Linked DNA regions of Homo sapiens: region 1 is linked to region 2. A link means that fine-mapping ties the variant in region 2 to the expression of a gene that starts in the linked region. Tissue or cell type: whole blood. Region 2 holds a variant in brackets; the other region holds the start of a gene. All regions are shown on one strand. Distances are between the middles of the regions.

Region 1 (2,653 bases), 32 kb before region 2:
AGCACCATGGAGGTTTCCTCCACCTGCGGGACACAGCAGGATGGAGACGGTTGGGCGGCCTCCCTTCCTGGGACACTCCATGGCCAGCCCCTCAGGGACTACTTGAAGAACAGAACCCCCAAAAGACCAGTTTCTGAAAAGGGACTCAAAGTCTAAGGGAGGCAGCCTCCTTTTATCCCCAGGGGAGGGCAGCTCTGGGGCAGACAGGTTCATCTGGATGTCATATTCACTCCCGCACAGAAAACCTAGGCCAAGCAATTTGTCCATCCTCCTCAGAGCCAGTTTTGTGGTCCCCATGGTCTGCCCACCACCTGTACCTGGACGCTGGCTTCATTTGGCCACCAGACAAAAGTCAGGCTGGCCCTGGAGTCCACCGGCCTGCCCAGCCCATCACTTCTGGGCTAGGTAGTGCTAAGCCTGCCCAGCCCACCCTGGCTGGGGCTCAGTGCCCTCTTCTTGGTGACACACTGTGCTCCTTGGAGAACTCCTCTCTAGGTGCTGGGGTGAGGGCAGGTGTGATCTGAGATCCCGGGGCTCTCTGGCAGGTGCATGCACGCACACTGGAACCTGATACAGGCTTTTGAACACAGGTGCACAGTCCAGAAACCTGCAAGTCCCATCCCAAACTATATCTGACTCTCTGCCCTATGCCTGTCCTCCTACAGGATCATCAGCCCCCAAGAGACCTCACCACTCCCCATCCTCACCTTAAATTCCAGGGTCAAAAAGACTCTCCTTGTAGGGAAAGGTAGGGTGTGTTGATCAGGTGGTGTTGGAAGGAGAGCCCCAATATAGGCCACTAATTCAGTTCCAGGTGGACTGCACGCGTCCCATCAGAGTTAGTTTACTCACCGCTGGTCTTTGTCCCTGCAGCACCCAGGGCTTCGGGAAGGGAGAAGCAGACTTCCTAGTGCTGCACCCCCCAGCTCCCCCGAGCCTATGGGCACTGGGTTGACTCCAGTTTCTTTCCTCTTAGAGACTGAGGTTTCTCCCTTTCCTCTCACACCTGCTTCTGTCCGGACCGGCCGCTTCTACCCAGCGGACCCTCGGACGGTCCTCGCAAGATCCGGGTTACACCCGCCCCGTGTTCCCTCTTCCCCGGTTCGCCCTTCCCGGCCTAAGCCCATCTTCCTTAGGAAAACTTAGCAGGGATTTAGGGGCCAAACCAGGAGGGTGGAGTTTTCTTTGCCCTCGGCCAGGAGCACATCTCCCTGTTGCGTTTTTTGGGGGAGACAGAGAGGGGCGGGCCTGAGTCGAGTATCCCTCTCCTCGCAGCGCCACAACTGCGCGCACCGACCTCCCCACGCCAGACGCGGCGTGAGCCAGGCCTCTAATCCGCTCGCCCCTCTTCCGGGTCCCGGTCCCGCCCGGGGCGCCCGGGGTCTCGAGAGCCCGCCTGGCGGCGCGATCTCACCTGTCGGCCGCGCCCGCGCGCTCTCGCTCCGGCTCCCGCTCCCGCTCCCGCTCCCGCTTGGTCGTCTTCCCGAGTTACTGACCCGAGGCGCTCCCGGGCGGGGCGTGACTCAGCACTCGTGCTGGTCCCCGACCCCGCGGCAACGCCCCGGCCAGGCCCCGGAAACGGTCCTGGCACGCTGGGGCTGGTCTCCGAACGGCCCGCCGGACTAACCTTGACCCTGAGCGAACGGCCTTGAACTTTGAAACAAATGCTCCCATGGCCAGATGTCGCCTCTCCGGCTCCTGCCAGCACCCGCGCCCCAGTCCTGCCGAGCCATTCAGACTTGGTTTAAAGTGTCCTTTCAGCATACTTTAAAGCAAAAAAGAGAGAGAGAGAGAGAGAGAGAGAGAGAGAGAGAGAGAGAGAGAGAGAGAGAGAGAGAAGGAAGGAAGGAAAACAAGCATCCCCCTGTTCCTCTGATTTTCTCGAGGACACCTTTAAAGCCACTGGAACCTTGGAGAGTGGGGTTCCCCTCACACGTTGGGCGCACTGCCAACATCCTTCCTTCAGACATACACATAATAATTCCGCAAACCCTGTTGAGCTCCTACATTTGCCAGGCACTGTGCTAGGCGTTGGAGGGATAACTTGGAGAGAAAACTGACAAGGTTCCTGCTTTCACGGAGGCGACAGTCTGGGAAAAGACAGATATTAAACACACCACCAAAAAATACATGTATAGAGAAAACAAAAACCATGTATCACCAACTGCAGTAAGAAAGATTGGGCATGGCCAGGCACGGTGGCTCATGCCTACAGTCCCAGCACTTAGGGAGGCCAAGGCGGGAGGATCGTTTGAGCCCAGGAGTTGGAGACCAGCCTGGGCAACATAGCGAGACCTACAAAAATTAGCCGGGCTTGTTGGTGCACACCTGTAGTCCCAGCTTCTCGGGAAGCTGAGGTGGGAGGATTGCTTGAGCCCAGGAGTTTGAGGCTACAGTGAACCATGATCATTCCACTGCACTCCAGCCTAGGTGACTGTGAGATTCTGTCTCAAAAAAAAAATAATAATAATAATAATAATAAATGAAATGAAATGAAAAAATAAAAAAGAAAGACTGAGGGCAAAGGAAGGGTGCAAATACTTCTCTCCAAGGATGAGAAAGAGGTAGATTTAGGTAAAGAGGAAGGAAGTGTGGTCTGGATGTGCAAAGACCCACAGGCAGGACAATGACCTGGAAGGCAGTGTATTGCCAG
Region 2 (2,838 bases):
ATGCAAAGGAAAAGTTCTTGAAGAAAATTAAAAGTGCTACTCCAGCAAACCCATGAACGTCAAGAAAATGAAACAGCCTTATTGCTGATAAAAAATAATAATAAAATAAAAACACGAGGTAAAAAAGCAAGTGCTGATGTAGAAGCTGCAGCAAGATAACTGATGAAGGTGGGTGGCTACACTAAACAACACATTTTCAATGTAGGCAAAACAGCCTTCTATTTGAAAAGCCATCTAGGACTTTCATAGCTAGAGGGGAGATGTCATTGCTTGGCTTCAAAGCTTCAAGGGGCAAGCTGACTCTCTTGTTATGGGCTAATGCAAGGTGACTTTACGTTGAGGCCAATATTCATTTACCATTCTGAAAATCCTAGGACCCATACTCATTTACCATTCTGAAAATCCTAGGACCCATACTCATTTACCATTTTGAAAATCCTAGGGCCCTGAAGAATGACACTAAATCAGTCCAAGTGGAGCAAGTGAGCGAGCAGAGTGGTTGTGTGGTTGCGTCTCGGAAACCAGTAGCACTTGCAGCATGGCTGACCAACTGACTGAGGAGCAGATTGTAGAATTCAAAGAAGTTTTTTCACTATTTGACAAAGATGGTGATGGAACTATAACAACAAAGAAACTAGGAACTGTAATGAGGTCTCAGGCAGAATCCCACAGAAGCAGAGTTACAGGACATGATTAATGAAGTAGATGCTGATGGTAATGGCACAATTGACTTCCCTGAATTTCTGACAATGATGGCAAGAAAAATGAAAGACACAGACAGTGAAGAAGAAATTAGAGAAACATTCTGTGTGTTTGATAAGGATGGCAATGGCTATATTAGTGGTGTAGAACTTCACCATGTGATGACAAACCTTGGAGTGAAGTTAACAGATGAAGAAGTTGATTAAATGATCAGGGAAGCAGATCCTGATGGTGATGGTCAAGTAAACTATGAGTTTGTACAAATGATGACAGCATAATGAAGACCTTGTACAGAATGTGTTAAATTTCTTGCACAAAACTGTTTATTTGCCTTTTGTTTGTAACTTATCTGTAAAAGGCTTCTCCCTACTGTCAAAAAAAAATATGCATGTATGGTAATCAGGACTTCATTCCTCCATGTGTTCTTCCCTTACTGTCATTGCCCTGAAACCTTATTTTAGAAAACTGATGAAGTAACATGTTGCCTGTGGCTTACTCCGGATATAT[C/A]TAAGCCCTTCTGCACATCTAAACTTAGGTGGAGTTGGTCAAATAAGGGAACATCCGGGTTATGCCTTTTTTTAAAGTAGTTTTCTTTAGGAACTGTCAGCATGGTGTTGAAGTATGGAGTTGTAACTCTGTGTGGACTACGGACAGCCAACAATATGTACTTAAAAGTTGCACTACTGCAGAATGGGTGTATTATCCAGGTACTCCCAGGTACCTCACACACTGTTTTTTCTGTACTGCTGGTCCTGTACCAGAAACATTTTCTTTTACTGTTACTTGCTTTTTAAACTTTGTTTAGCCACTTAAAGAAAATGTGCTTATGGCACAATTTGCCTCAAATCCATTCCAAGTTGTGTATTTGTTTTCCAATTAAAAAAATTACAATTAAAAAAAGAATTATACTAAATCTACTCTGCCTACCACACATCTGTTTACAGCATGGTTTACTAAGTATTTTAAGCCCACTGTGAAGACCTATTGCTCAGAAAAAAAGATTTGAAGATATTACTGCTCATTGACAACGCACCTGGTCACCCATGGGCTTTGATGGAGGTGCAGAAAGAAGTTAATGTTGTTTTAATGTCTACTAACAACATCCATTCTGCTTCCCATGGATCAAGGAGTATTTTCGATTTGCCAGTCTTTCATTTAAGAAATATATTTCCTTTGGGAGGCCGAGGCGGGCGGATCACGAGGTCAGGAGATCGAGACCATCCCGGCTAAAACGGTGAAACCCCGTCTCTACTAAAAATACAAAAAATTAGCCGGGCGTAGTGGCGGGCGCCTGTGGTCCCAGCTACTTGGGAGGCTGAGGCAGGAGAATGGCGTGAACCCGGGAGGCGGAGCTTGCAGTGAGCCGAGATCCCGCCACTGCACTCCAGCCTGGGCGACAGAGCGAGACTCCGTCTCAAAAAAAAAAAAAAAAAAAAAGAAATATATTTCACAAAGCCATCAATGCCATAGACTGATTTCTCTGCTGGATCTGGGCAAAGTAAACTGAAAACCTCCTGGAAAGGAGTCACCATTCTAGGTACCAGTAAGAACAGTTATGATTCACGGGAAGAGGTCAAAATATCAATATTAACAGGAGTTAGGAAGACAGTGATTCCAACCCTCGTGGAAAACTTTGAGGGGTTCGAGACTTTGGAGGAAGAAGTAACCTTAGATGTGGTAGAAACAGCAAGAGAACTAGAATTAGAAGTAGAGCCTGAAGATGTGACAACTGCTGTAATTTCATGATCAAACTAATGGATAAAGAGATGCTTCTTATGGATAAGCAAAAAAAGTGGTTTTTTTGAGATGGAATCTAGTCCTGGTGAAGATGCTATGAATACTGTTGAAATGACACCAACAATTTAGAAAATTACAAAAACTTACTTGAGTTTACATAAACTTACTTGAGCAGCAGCAGGGTTTAAGAGGACTGGTTCCAATTTTGAAATAAATTCTGCTTTGGGTAAAATGCTATCAAACAGCATTGCATGCTACAGAGAAATCTTTCTTGAAAACAAGCATTAACTGATGCAACAAACTTCCTTGTTGTCTTATTTTAAGAAACTGCCACAGCCATCCCAACCTTTAGCAATCATCAACCTGATCAGTCAACAGCTATCAACGTGGAGTAACATG

What was found. PIP is the estimated chance that this variant, and not a neighbour inherited with it, causes the effect.
Region 1: AIFM2 starts here. The variant in region 2 is fine-mapped to the expression of AIFM2 in whole blood (TOPMed, PIP above 0.99).

What each region holds. Positions count from the first base shown.
Region 1 is chr10:70,131,320-70,133,972 of GRCh38, forward strand. It overlaps AIFM2 (AIF family member 2), which reads right to left and starts at 1,506. Exons shown (of 9, transcript NM_032797.6): 1 at 1,415-1,506. RefSeq lists an enhancer at 1,297-1,797 and silencers at 1,319-1,528, 1,361-1,680.
Region 2 is chr10:70,163,147-70,165,984 of GRCh38, forward strand. All of the region lies in intron 1 of SAR1A (secretion associated Ras related GTPase 1A), which reads right to left. It also overlaps the pseudogene CALM2P2. Among named protein-coding and RNA genes, the nearest start is that of SAR1A, 5.9 kb to the right of the region's middle. RefSeq lists an enhancer at 1,245-1,324. The variant C/A (reference allele first, on the strand shown) is at 1,210.